4 linked regions of the Homo sapiens genome follow. The protein of the gene in region 4 interacts with the protein of the main gene of each other region in a pairwise test. Each region holds a gene or a part of one and is shown on either strand. Other genes may lie near its edges.

Region 1 (3,983 bases), on a different chromosome or scaffold from region 4:
GGCCTGCAGGTGGGCCAAGCCGTCGCCTGTGAGGCACAGTGCGTACTCCAGGGCCAGTGCCTTTGGGGAGCCCCGGGCCAGGGGCAGCACGATGCTGCCGTCAATGGAGCGCCACTCGCACTGCCGGCCTGCGGGCAGCACCTAGGGTTAGGGCTGGGGGCTTGGCTGACCGGGCTCAGAAGCACCCTCCCTCCACTCGGACCCCAGCACCAGCCAGTCTCTCCTCTCTGGAGCCCGCACCTCCCTACCCACCCAGGTGACCCCCAGCCCTTCTCTGGGGACTCCACAAAGAATGTCCCTCAGGTGCACAGGGTGGAACCAAGAGCCTGGGGCCTGAGCTACTTGCCTGAGAGCCCGGGACACAGCCAGATTAGAACCTGGGCAGTCTGACCCCAGCTAAGCCATGCCCCCACCTCATGCAAGGCCCCCTAACCTGAAACACACAGAAGGGGGCTATTGCGCTCTCCTTGGGAAACCCCACACCAGGCCCTCACCTCATTTATCCCTGCGCCCGTGGCCTCTCTGAAATCCTGTTTTCTCGGGGCTGGGCCCCCTCCCAACTCTGACAGGGCCCCTGAGTTCTCAACATCTTCTTGCTCCACTTCCCCTTTCTTGCTGGCTGGCCCTGGCTTGGATGCTGGGCGCTGAGGATGGCCAAGGGCGGCCCGCCAGCCCTCCTGGCACTGCCTGCTCACCCTGGACCATCTCAAGCTGAAGGGCAGCACACTTCCACCTGGCTTGTGCTGCAGCTGTTGCTAGACCAGCTTCGCTTGTCAATCAACAGTTCTGCTCATCCGCTCCATGCCACCTGCCCACAATCCCCAGGCCCTGGAAGACCCCGGTAGCTGGGGCTGGGACAGGGGGAGGCCTGCGACCAATAGAACAGAGGGAGGGCAGGGACCGAGTCCTCTGAGAGGTGGCCTGGAGGTTCCGGAAGCTGCTCTGGCCCAGACCTGTGAATGTTTGCTGCCAGCAGCCCTGTGGCAACACTGCTCCATGTGGTTCTTCTTAGGGCCCTGTCAACACTCATGCAGGTCCTGAACTGCGTGCGCCCACAGGGGCTTCACCTCTAGCTCTGGGGCAGGTATCTGGTAAGCCCCACACCTCTAGCTGGGAGGGGCTGGGTCTCTATGTCTGCCTCTTCATCAATCTGAATCCAGGGCATTGCTCAAAGAGGTCACTGGGGAGAGGTTGGAGCCTTGAGCTCTGGAATCAGGCTGTCTGGATTCCAATCCTTAGCCATGGATTGGAAGTGACCTGGGCAAGTGGGTTCACTTCTGAGCCTCTGTCCCTTCTCTACAAAGCAGGGCCCCGAGAGCTGACCCAGCCAGCTTCCTCCTCTGTGGTGTGGGGAAGGCAAGCCACCCCGTGTGGTGCAGGATGGGGTGGAGGGACCAACGCAGTAACACGCACGGAGCGCTCCGCCTGGGGTCTGGTCAGGCTGAGCACTGGGCAAACTGCCATCAACTGTGGCTGAGGATGCCAGCAGTCCCTGTGCTCGGGAAGGGAGCACTCGGTACATGGGCAGCTTGCCGGGCCAAAGAGGGTGTGAAATGAGGATGACACTGAGGATGGGGAGTAAGCGTGGTAGGAGCAGTATCTGCCCATGAGTGCACAGGAAACCCGAGCTGGCAGTCAGACTATCGCCTCATTATGGTAAATAAACACCTACATGCCGCACATCCTGGGACCTGCGACCCAGTGAACGCTCACATGCTGTCCGAGGTGCCCAGTGGGCCAGGGCTGTGATTAGTGGTGCCAGGCATTTGAAGACACTGTGCTGCTGAGGCCTGGTACACAGGTGGGCTGTTGCGATGGGAGCTGTTCTTGGACTCAGGGTCCCCCTTCCCCACTGTGGGCCAGGCTAGGGCCTCACCTTTCTCGGAGGGAGGCTGCAGGATCAGCGTGTGGGCCTTTTCAATGAAGTGCAGCTCCTGGGCCACGTGGCATGCAGTGAGCGGGTTGTCTCCCGTGATCATGACCACCTTGGGTAAAGAGGGGCAGAGGCTCAGCATGGCACCCTGGGGCCAAGCTCTAGGCCAGAGACAAGGCTGCCAAGTCTCCTTCTAAGGTAGGCCACAGTGGGAGATCCTGGGCCTCTAACCGAGATGCTGAATGGGCTTCCAAGGGCCACAACCCACCCCCACCCAGGTCATTTTACACAAATGACACGTGTATGTGCGTCCTTCTGAAGACACCCTTAGCTTGGATTTGCAATACAAATGAACAACCTGCCCCTGAGGTGGACCCTTTTGGCTTGGTAGCTGCCCATGGGGGTAATATTTCAGCAAAGAGGAGGATGGGACCATGACCTCTGGGCTTGGTGGGGACTAATCACATCACCCATGTGACCCAGAGCCATCATCCTCTGAGACGGCTCACTCACCCCTTACACCCTAAAAGACACCCTAAGTCCCAAAATAGAAAACACAAGCCACCAGAAGCCACCAGGACAGGCAGACAGTGCCCCCCACCCAACTCCCCAGCCTCAGCTTCCTTCTCTCCAGGACGGCGGTGGAACGGGGAAGTGGAGAGAAGTGCCCCCATCTTCCCATGATGCGGGGAGTGAAGGGAGTGGTCTGTGGAGGAGAGAGGAGCCAGCACAGGCGGGTCCCAGAGTGTCCTTGGGCCAGTGGCAATGTTAGCACCTGAGCTATGATCTTGCTCAGCTAAAACATGCAGCCTGTGAGACTTGGGTGCCCACCCCTACCACGAAGCTGTAATTGTCATCTCCTCGCCTCTATTTCCCATGCAGAGGGTGGAGCCGAGCACCGTCCCATACCCGGTGGGACGCATTCTGGATCTCCCGGATCACGGCCTTGGAGTCAGCCTTGAGCGGGCAGGAGACCACAATGAAGCCGACGAACTTGAGGCTGCACTCCAGGGCCTCCCGCTTGACCTCCCGGGCCTGCGGACAGACAGGGGCACCCTCACCATCTGTCCCTCCCTCTGCCCACACTCTGCATTTCCTGAGCTCTGACCATGCGCTGGGAGCCAAGGGGACAATGGAAGGCCCTGTTCCCGTAGTGGGCACATGCGAGGGTTGGGAGGGGAGAAATGCCAGGAGGGTACCAGGCACGCTTGAGGGGTGGGATCTGGCAGTGACTGGGGGGTCTGGGTCCCCCGAATGTGGCTCTATGTCCTGCTTGCGGACATGGGCACATCACAGAGTCCCTTGTGGCTCAGCTTCCAAGTCAATGAAGTAGGGACTCTCCCAATAATGTTGGAGTTTAGCCAGGAACTCTTACTCACTGGGGCTCCACCACATACCACAGACTGGGCACAGACCCCTGGCCTTAGGGAGCTCACACTGCACCAGGGGAGACGCATGATCAAGAAAGTCACAGAAATCGGAGTGCTGAGTGCCATGAGAGAGGAGGTGAGAATGGAATCCAGAGAGGGTGGAAAGGCCTCAGAAGTGGCCACTATGAAGGCGATGAGGACCTGTGTCACTGGGAAGGGGGCTCCAGGTGCAGGAACGGGGCAGAGCATGCAGGCTGTGAGCTGTGGCCTGGGCTCTGCACACAGTACTGCAACCTGAGGCTAAATTCTGGAAGGATCCGCAGCTGTAGGGTGCAAGCAGAAAGAACGAGAGCCCAGGAAGAAGCCAAGCGGCAGATGTGCCGGTGGTGGAGGCGGAGGGTGGGCTTTGTGGAGGATGGATGGGTGAGAGGGCTGAGGATGCCACCTAGCCCTGCCCAAGACCAGGGCAAAAGAGTAGAGCTAGGGACACACCAGGACTGGGGCAGGTAAGCCCTGCGTGTGCTCTGCGTGAGCCAGGACTGGGTGGGTCCCCACAGCAGTGGACAGACTGAGTGCCATTTGGAGTCTCCAAAGGTAGAAGCTGGAGGCGGGGCAAGGAGGACAAAATCACAACCATTCAACCTGGCACTGTGGGACACAGGAGGTGACTCAGGGAGGAGCTGACGGGCCAGGCACATGGTGAAGGCAGGGGGAGCCTGGGCCCGTACCTGCTGGTGAGT
Region 2 (3,186 bases), on a different chromosome or scaffold from region 4:
CTGAGAAAAGAACAGGATAGAGACATGATTTTATTTTATAGTGACAAAGAGGCTAAAAACAACTGAGAGAACTTCAGTATATTTAGTTGTAGTTGCTTTGTGAGTCAGGGCAGTTGCATTTGGAATTCCCTCCCAGATTATGTTTTCCAAAGGGAAATCAAACCCAATTAATAAATCTGTGTCTCCATTTCAGGTCAAAGGAAAAATGATAATGAATTCATTGAGCCTCTTTGCTGCCATTTCTGGAATGATTCTTTCAATCATGGACATACTTAATATTAAAATTTCCCATTTTTTAAAAATGGAGAGTCTGAATTTTATTAGAGCTCACACACCATATATTAACATATACAACTGTGAACCAGCTAATCCCTCTGAGAAAAACTCCCCATCTACCCAATACTGTTACAGCATACAATCTCTGTTCTTGGTAAGTGTTCTTGGTAAGTGTGAGATTGGATTTCTCTCCAGGGAGGAAGGATGACTTGTTTATTATGAGCATGAACTCTGGATCCAGACCACCTGAGTTTGCTAGTTACTGTCTGTGTGGCTTTGGGAAAGAATTTTAACCACACTGTGCCTCAATTTCTTCAACTGTAAAATGGGGATGGTAACACTATTTATCTAATAGGGTTGTTCTGAGGAATAAATAAGTTAATATATACAAAGCATTTAGAACAGTGTTTGGTACACAGAAGTGCTATATAAGCATTGGCTTTAACATTAATTATTCTCAACATCATTAATGGCATTAATATTTACCATTATATTAACTAAGATGAGCATAGAAGAAATTCCTAAGATGTTATGAATATCTTTTGCCCAAGGACTTTTAAATGTAGAGTTTGAAAGAGATAAAAAAAAATGCATCTCCCAAGGATGAAGAGGTCTCCTAGGCATGATGCCACACCAACTAAGGCTGAATACAATTTAATTTGAGACTCATTACTTATTCTTTCCTATACAGAATTGATTCTTCAACTGATTATTCATACCTTACTTTCTATCAGCAATACACATTAACCATCTGTTGTGTGCCAAAAGTTGTGTTAAGAGTTAGGGTTATAAAGATGCTGTCTCCTGTACTAGCAGTTCTCACAGCTATTCATTACTTGTCTAAAGAATTGATCTCTTAATCGTTCAATTATAGTCAACAATAACTTACTGAACACCAACAATGTTCTTTGTGCCATTATTACATTTTCACCTTCATTCTTCTGTTGTTTTTCAGGGCATTTTGTCAGTGATGCTGATCTTTGCCTTCTTCCAGGAACTTGTAATAGCTGGCATCGTTGAGAATGAATGGAAAAGAACGTGCTCCAGACCCAAATCTGTAAGTAGTAGCCCCTCTGGCCAAAACCTCCCTCTAGAAAATCCACATCCACAAAGGATCATTTATGGAGAATGTAATCTGATGAGTTGTTGAAACTAGGAGCTTGATTTAAAAAAAAAAATTGGTCTTGGCATATTTCTAGAAAGCAAATAATATGATGTCTTGAAATTTGAAATAAGTCTGTAGTTAGAGCCTACAGTTCTATATTCTGTGCGTCTTTTTTTTTTTTTTTTTTGAGACAGAGTCTCACTTTGTTGCCCAGGCTAGAGTGCAATGGCGCGATCTTGGCCCAGTGCAACCTCTGCCTCCGGGTTCAGGCGATTCTCCTGCCTCACCCTCCCGAGTAGCTGGGATTACAGGCACCCGCCATCATGCCTGGCCAATTTTTGTATTTTTGTAGAGACGGGGGTTCACCATGTTGGCCAGGCCAGTCTTGAACTCCCGACCTCAGGTGATCCTCCCACCTCAGCCTCCGAAAGTGCTGGGATTGCAGGCGTGAGCCACCATGCCCCACCTCTGTGCATCTTCTTATTAACCTTCCCTGCTGCTTGACTTCAGGCTTCCATCCTGATTTCATGATTCCATATACAGTGTGTAAAAGCAAGATGGTTGAAGGTTGAAGGCTAAGTCACTAGTTCTTTGGTTTCATTTTTCAGTATTCCCCTCTTCCCTCCTTTTCACCTAATTCCTCTTCCAAAACAACAGGTTAAAGGGCTCCACAAATGGGAAATAAAAACAGACCAATAATAGATATATTACTAACTGCTTCAGAACCAGACTGTTAGATTTAGAATTTAGAAATCATCGCTAATTACTTCATTTTGCATTTAAAGAAAAATAGTATCAAAGAGAGAAAATTATTCTCCCAGAGTTATATTCACTAAAGGCAAATCAGAACGAAAATCTAAACTCCTCTATTACTGCAATGTTCTTTTCCCAATACCACGTGGTCATTCCAGGCACTGTGGTCAATGTCTGCTGCCCTTGAAGATTTATTCAGACTTGAGTTTTAATAAATGACTTGATAAGGATATAAGCACCTGCAAAAAAATTTTGGCATTTAAAGGCATATAATAAATGACATAAGTAGCATAAAAACCAGGAGGTATTTGATAAATGTTTGTGGAGATTGTTGACAAAGGTGTCAGTGGTAAAAGTAAAGAATGGTTTGTTTAATTTTCTGTTTTAGAACATAGTTCTCCTGTCAGCAGAAGAAAAAAAAGAACAGACTATTGAAATAAAAGAAGAAGTGGTTGGGCTAACTGAAACATCTTCCCAACCAAAGAATGAAGAAGACATTGAAATTATTCCAATCCAAGAAGAGGAAGAAGAAGAAACAGAGACGAACTTTCCAGAACCTCCCCAAGATCAGGAATCCTCACCAATAGAAAATGACAGCTCTCCTTAAGTGATTTCTTCTGTTTTCTGTTTCCTTTTTTAAACATTAGTGTTCATAGCTTCCAAGAGACATGCTGACTTTCATTTCTTGAGGTACTCTGCACATACGCACCACATCTCTATCTGGCCTTTGCATGGAGTGACCATAGCTCCTTCTCTCTTACATTGAATGTAGAGAATGTAGCCATTGTAGCAGCTTGTGTTGTCACGCTTCTTCTTTTGAGCAACTTTCTTACACTGAAGAAAGGCAGAATGAGTGCTTCAGAATGTGATTTCCTACTAACCTGTTCCTTGGATAGGCTTTTTAGTATAGTATTTTTTTTTGTCATTTTCTCCATCAACAACCAGGGAGACTGCACCTGATGGAAAAGATATATGACTGCTTCATGACATTCCTAAACTATCTTTTTTTTATTCCACATCTACGTTTTTGGTGGAGTCCCTTTTGCATCATT
Region 3 (3,501 bases), on a different chromosome or scaffold from region 4:
AATGTTTTTTCATACTTCCGTGGTTTCTTGCACACTGTACACTGACAGCCAAGCCCTTCCCTCAGTCCACTTCTTAAGCATCTACTGCAGACTCAGTTCAAGCATGTCCTTCTTTGTGCTTCCACAGCACTCTGCACTGCCCTGGTACAAATCACACTGTTTTGTAGTCATATTTACCTGCTTGTCTCCTCCACAAGATTGTGAGTTCCTTAAGGGTGGGGATTATGTTTTATTCACATTTGTATCCCCAGCACCCACCACAGGACCTAACGTTTTATAGGAGCTTCACCTATGTTTGTTGAATAAATGGATGAATGAATAGTTCTCGTTCTGAGCAGAGCTCTGACCTCTATTTTCCTACTACTTCTGCAGCAAACAGTATCCATATATTAATATATGTGGTCCCTTACCAAACCCCCTGACTATCCACCCCTCCTCCCAGCAGTGCCAAACACCGCAGCCAAAATTTCTGATGCTCAGGCAGTTACAGGAGTGTGGGACTGGTCCAACTAGAAGAGGTGGAACAGAAGCCAATAGTTTCAGTGTAGGCCCTAACCAATGTCAGTGTTGCTATCAGAGTCCACCCCAAATCCCAGAGACAAGTGTTGCTGTCTACTTATCCAGAACCTAACCTTAAGTGTAATGAGGGGAAAACATATCTCAAGACCATTCCTTTAAGTGTGACTGGACTGGATGGCTACCTACTTACACCACCCTCCTCAAACCCTGATTCAACAAGAAGCACCCACAGGCACAGCAGATGCTTTTGTGGTAACTGAAGAAAACACAAAGGACACTTCTCTGAGGCTCTTCACTCTTAAAAGTCAGGCTCTACATCTTTAGCAAGCAAAAAACAGGACACAGTTTATTTTTCTACTTTCTTTTAATATCATTTTTTAAAGTTGGTAAGCAGCTAGACATCATTTAGAAGCAGACGGGTTAAAATAGACAAGAAATAGCAAAGACACATCCTTCACATCGTACAGAACTGTATTAGTATCCACCACCACCATCACAGGGGAGGGCTAGCTGTCACTGGGGTCAGGAGTACTCTCCATTATTGTGCAGGGGACCAGACAGCATTTAGGTGTGACGATGTCAAACTGAGTGGACATAGAGAGTGCCGGGATCAAGGTCTACAGTTTTGGCTCTAGACTTGCGTGAGGGTTGGTTACTCTTAATCTCTTCCAGGCTGTGCTGGATCCCATAGCCGAAGTAGATAGCAAAGCCTAGTGGGGAAAGGTAGCTGTGAGGTGGGGGTGTAAAGGCTTCATAGGTTTCCTACTTGAGACCAAGAGGGAAAGGAGCTGGGCTAGGACACCAAAGAAGCCTACTCTTCCCAAGTGGATACCTACCAATCAGCATCCAGACCCCAAATCGGGCCCAGGTACCAGCTGTCATCTGCATCATAAGGTAAATATTCACAAAGATGCTCATTAGTGGGAGGAGAGGCAAAGCAGGCACCTGAAAACAAAGTAAAATCTTCTTTGTACATACCACAGGTTGACCTAGAAAGAGATCCCTATCCTATGCAGGCCAGAAAAGGGTGAGTCCAACTCTTACTTGTCCTCTGCATTTCAGTAGCTGCTCATTTAGCATACCTCATGAGACTCCAAGAATATGCAGTTTGGGTAAATGGAACTGGAAAGGAACTAAAGAGGGTCAGAGAAGAAGTCTTTGGCCTAGGTACCTCCTATATCTTCCCTTTCATGTTCAATTAAAGAATATCTATGAACTTTATTAGACCTCAAGATATCTGGAGCCTATTCTCCCAAGATGGGCTGGCAAGGAAAAAAGACAGAGTTCATTTACCTTAAAGTGAAGGGGAGTGGAACTCTGTGGCTGTCTCCAGATGACCACAATGATCCCAATAATGAGCAGCAGGAGCAGCACAACCACTGCAGTCCACAGCAGGTCTCCAGAAAGCAATGGAACTGACCACTGGGCCAGCACCAGGCAAAGAGCAGTCAGCAGGACAGCTTCAAAGGTCAAGTTGAGAGACATCAAAACCAACTCTTAAGACCAACATGCTAAGACATTAGAAACCCTGTTCCAAGGAGAGTCGCTCTCTCTCTAGTTCTTCCTCAGCCACCAAATGCCACACACTTCGACCCAATCACGCTGATCTCAGAGCCACCCCAGAAAAATTCCACTGCTCACCAAGCAATGAGGAACAAACATAGACAATTTGGCCAGAGAGTGGAGTGGGGATGGAGTTGAGTGGGAAAAATAGTCCCCATAGGGTCAACTTCTCTGATTCAGTAGTTATTGCCTCCTCCTGCAACTCCACTTCTTCCCCAGTCTTTGTCTCCTGATCAGGTTGATACCTGAGGCAAAAGTAAGATGGCAGTATTAAGAACAACCTTTACTCACTTTATCATCTTCTCCCAGGCAGCTTAACCTTCCTCATCACCATTAAGGGAAGTTCTTTTTGGCAGGGTGAGATACCCAGATTCCTCAAAGAAAGTTGGAATAATGAAGGCGAAGGAGGAAAGAGGAGCAGATCTCCATCATTCCTCATCCAAGAATAAAAATCCAAATCACAGTATGCAGAGGAAGAGTCTCACCTGAGGATGAGAACACAAATCGACACCAGGGAGTAAGCAAGCAGGGTCCCAATTGACATGAGGTCCACAAGATCAGTGAGTTTGAAGAGGAATGCCATGAATGCTAAAATTAATAGGCAGGAAACAAGAAATGAGAGAAGGGAGTGGCAAAGTTAAAGAAGTTGGCGAAACAACTAAGGGAAGGGGAAAGAGGGTCTGTTACCTGCAATAATGCCAGAGACCACGGTGGCTATGATTGGGGTGCGTGTGCCGGTGTGGATCCGAGCAAGTACACGGAACAGGAGGCCATCCTCTGCCATCGCGTAGATCACCCGAGGCATGGGGAACATGGAGCCCAGGAGGCTGGAGAGGAGAATGCCCAGGGTGGCATGAGTTGACTGGGATCTCTCTTCCCAAGACTGTATGTTTAAAGAGTCTCCACTTTCCCCTCACAGCCCTTTTAAGGGGTATTCTCTGGTACTGAATGCTATAACCTGAGACTCTGACAGCAGAAGAAAACAAACATTTGATACTGACCTGGTAGAAAGAGCACAGAGGGAGCCAACAGCCACAACATAGCGGGCAGGAGCCCATCCAATGTAGAGAAATGCCTCAGGCAAAGGGCTCTCAGGCTGAAGCTGGTAGTAAGGCATCATCAGGGTGAGTGCAGAAGAGACAGCAAAATACGCCAAAAAGCAGACAGACAGTGAGATCACAATGCCCATCGGGATGGAACGCTGGGGATTCTGGGCTTCTTCTCCTGAAGGAAGGGCGTAAGGTTCTAAATTAGGGAAGCAGGCCCACTCCTCTACCACCCCCAGTCTGCATACAGCCTGGGCACACACTGTGCCCAAGCCCCAAACAGAATGGAATGACTGTGTTACCAGTGGTAGCAATACAGTCGAAACCAACAAATGCATAGAAACAGGTCGCTGCTCCACGGAGAATTCCCTCG
Region 4 (3,146 bases):
TATCATTTTGGAGGACGCAATTCTCTAAAATGCACACTGGAAAGTACAAAGTGCATGGAGTGCACATGCACTTTGAAAGGTTGCATCCTATGTTGCACAATGAAAAACCCTATAATTTCATTCAGAGTAGACCTGCATAGTTTCCAATGATGTTGTTATCACCCAAGATATTTCTGAAAGTTCTTTTGGGAACTTCCTTCATATTCAATTTGCAGGTCACTCAAGAAAGTAGGTTTGTCCCCTTATTATTAGACATCATTTTGGGTTTAAAACCGTATTTCCGGGCTTGATCATCCACCTTGTTTACCAGCTTTGTTTCAAATGACTCTTGGCAATTTCCAGAATTGATCCTAAAATGGATAAAATCCCTATCTGTAATCAAGGTATTTGAGACAAATATGTATGACAAGTTCTCATGAGTTTCAAAGTATGTGGAACAATGACAGTATTGTAGGAATGTGTATATAAGTTCCAAAAATACTTGACTTTTAAATAATATCCATTTTGCAGGAGTCCTGAATAGCCTCACGTAACACTTCACTGAAAGTCTGCTATCCAGAGATGTGTCAAAAGCAGTAACTGTGCTTGGCTGAGTTTGTAATAATCAAAGTGTTAATCAGCTGTCCCCAAGCTTCCTAGCTACTGATACGAAATCTAAAAAGATGGGCTGGGTGCAGTGGCTCACACCTGTAATCCCAGCACTTTGGAAGGCCAAGGCAGGAGGACCGCTAAGAGTCCAGGAGTAAGACCAGCCTGGGCAACATAGTAAGACCCTGTCTCTAATGTTAATAATTTTAAAAAAATTTAAAGAAAGGAATCCAAAAAGAAGATAAAGGTCTTTCATATTCCTTTCCACTTCCAGTGTTTTATTGCAATGTTTCCCACCTCCAATTTCTACCTGTGCTTCCCCACCTCTGTTCCTCTCTATCCCCAACTCTTCTAATTGCCTTTTCTTGTCTTCATTCCCAGGGAGGGATGATCATCATTCTCTTGTGCAGTGTGGCCGTCACAGTTCTCTCTGCCATCAATGTGGGGAAGAGCATCATGTTTGCCATGACACCACTCTTGATTGCCACCTCCTCCCTGATGCCTTTTATTGGCTTTCTGCTGGGTTATGTTCTCTCTGCTCTCTTCTGCCTCAATGGACGGTAGGTATTTTTTTTTTTTTTAAGAAAGGGTCTCACTCTGTTGCCCAGGCTGGAGGGGAGTAGCACATTCTCAGCTCACTGCAGCCTCAACCTCCAGGGTTTAACTGATCCTCCTGCCTCAGCCCCCCAAGTAACTGGGACTATAGGCACAAGCCACCATGACCAGCTGATTTAACTTTTCTGGAGACAGGGTTTTACCATGTTGCCCAGGCTAGTTTTGAACTAATGAGCTCAAGTGATCCACCTGCCTCAGCCTTCCAAAGTGCTAGGATTACAGGTGTGAGCCACTGCATGCCTGGAGATAGGTATTATTTTAGGTCCCACTGTCCCATGGGCTTCATTCTTGTCCTAGTCTTTCAGGAAACGAATAAGAAGCTAGGAACCTGAAATCTGGGCAAGACACTTTCCTGGCAATATGTTCAGATGCACTAACTGGACAAGAGACTTTAGACTTGAAAAAAATTGAATGAAGGTATTGAACGGGTTAAAAATCCAGACACCAAAGGTATCCAAACACCAGCAGCAATAGCAAAGTACCCCTGTCCAGGGTCTAGATTCCATCTGCTGCGAAACTCTTTGGTAGCAGCACTGGGACAAAGTTGCTCCCTCCAGTTCCCTCTGAGTGTATGTGGGGTTTTCTTCACCGGCACAGGTGCAGACGCACTGTCAGCATGGAGACTGGATGCCAAAATGTCCAACTCTGTTCCACCATCCTCAATGTGGCCTTTCCACCTGAAGTCATTGGACCACTTTTCTTCTTTCCCCTCCTCTACATGATTTTCCAGCTTGGAGAAGGGCTTCTCCTCATTGCCATATTTTGGTGCTATGAGAAATTCAAGACTCCCAAGGGTGAGTACTGAAATTATCCCCACTTCAAGTTCTGCTCCAATATTAGACCTGAGCCTGCCAACAAGCAAGTTTCTAGCAGGGACTTTTTGGATAGGGCTTTAACTCTTATCAAGTCACTAAGAACCAGGTAGCCCCAAGAAGCACCCAAGAAGCATTAAAGATCCAAGACTACTTCCATCAACTGCACTCCATTTCTTCCTTCTAGCTGGGAGAATGAAATTGCAGATGCAGTTTACCTCATAAAACTGAAGCAATTTGGGCTGCTTTGTCTCAGTGGGGAGACATCATAGGACAAAACTGCCTTGGACAACTGAGGTTATTAGTTGTGTGAAAGGCCTCTATTCGCAAGAGTTGGGGAAGTTTCCATTTCTCAGGACTAGGTTCTCATTTCCTGGAACCAGATCAGAGCCACAGCACCACTGGCACCTCCGTATGAGGAAAAACATATGAAAGCAATGCACCCTAATATAACCCAGAATAAAGAAAAAAAAAAAAGATTCCTCAACTCTAGTTACGCAGTAAAGGAAACTTAAGCATACGGTTGTTAAACAGTAACTACCTCCACAATAAACTTAATATGATTTATACTTTACTCTGATCACTATGGGGTTAACATAGCATCTCTTCTCTAAAATGCTCAGAGTATTACCTTTCAAAATAAAATTGAACCTCAAGACAGACCAGAGAACAGAGTGCCTTCCTCAAAGTGCACTTTAACACCAATTTTAAAAAAAAAAAAAAAAAAAAAAAAAAACAGGACATTCAAACCCACTTTATAACACATTTCATTATAACTCTCAACATTAGTATATTCTTCCTAAGTACCTACCCAAATCCTTCAACTGTCCCTTCATGTCCATGAATTGAAGTCCCCTTCAAAACCTTTCTAGACCCTAGGGACTGTGATTTACACCCTAGGAGAAATACACAACTTTCCCTATTGGAATTTGTTACATTATACTAGCAAGCAAATGCCGATTCTCTCTCCCTTTGCAATTAGCTAAGATGTAATTAGGTTGCCAAGCAGCCAACACGAAACAAGTACAGGCTGACCATACACTAGAACCATTTTAGAAGCTTTGGTTCAAAGCTACAGTAGAGTTGTGAGAAAGAATCTACTCTGATGCTTATCTGAGAGGAACGCAAGAG

What was found. Proteins that work in one complex are often made in the same cells at the same time.
Region 1: the proteins of SLC10A1 (region 4) and ATP13A1 interact in a two-hybrid assay, tested with the Homo sapiens proteins (one large-scale study listed by BioGRID).
Region 2: the proteins of SLC10A1 (region 4) and MS4A1 interact in binary tests that used the Homo sapiens proteins (3 or more experiments, as listed by UniProt).
Region 3: the proteins of SLC10A1 (region 4) and SLC7A3 interact in binary tests that used the Homo sapiens proteins (3 or more experiments, as listed by UniProt).

Annotation. Positions count from the first base shown.
Region 1 is NC_000019.10:19,649,813-19,653,795, forward strand, and holds part of ATP13A1 (endoplasmic reticulum transmembrane helix translocase), read right to left. Parts: coding exon 3,972-3,983; intron 2,909-3,971; coding exon 2,783-2,908; intron 1,986-2,782; coding exon 1,877-1,985; intron 129-1,876; coding exon 1-128. UniProt on the Homo sapiens protein: Endoplasmic reticulum translocase required to remove mitochondrial transmembrane proteins mistargeted to the endoplasmic reticulum.
Region 2 is NC_000011.10:60,465,728-60,468,913, forward strand, and holds part of MS4A1 (B-lymphocyte antigen CD20), read left to right. Parts: intron 1-193; coding exon 194-430; intron 431-1,231; coding exon 1,232-1,333; intron 1,334-2,522; coding exon 2,523-2,741; 3' UTR 2,742-3,186. UniProt on the Homo sapiens protein: B-lymphocyte-specific membrane protein that plays a role in the regulation of cellular calcium influx necessary for the development, differentiation, and activation of B-lymphocytes.
Region 3 is NC_000023.11:70,924,715-70,928,215, forward strand, and holds the end of SLC7A3 (cationic amino acid transporter 3), read right to left. Parts: coding exon 3,431-3,501; intron 3,307-3,430; coding exon 3,084-3,306; intron 2,910-3,083; coding exon 2,770-2,909; intron 2,671-2,769; coding exon 2,568-2,670; intron 2,328-2,567; coding exon 2,161-2,327; intron 1,980-2,160; coding exon 1,813-1,979; intron 1,465-1,812; coding exon 1,356-1,464; intron 1,230-1,355; coding exon 1,099-1,229; 3' UTR 865-1,098; downstream 1-864. UniProt on the Homo sapiens protein: Uniporter that mediates the uptake of cationic L-amino acids such as L-arginine, L-lysine and L-ornithine. The transport is sodium ions- and pH-independent, moderately trans-stimulated and is mediated by passive diffusion.
Region 4 is NC_000014.9:69,777,184-69,780,329, reverse strand, and holds part of SLC10A1 (hepatic sodium/bile acid cotransporter), read left to right. Parts: intron 1-969; coding exon 970-1,148; intron 1,149-1,800; coding exon 1,801-1,997; intron 1,998-3,146. UniProt on the Homo sapiens protein: As a major transporter of conjugated bile salts from plasma into the hepatocyte, it plays a key role in the enterohepatic circulation of bile salts necessary for the solubilization and absorption of dietary fat and fat-soluble vitamins.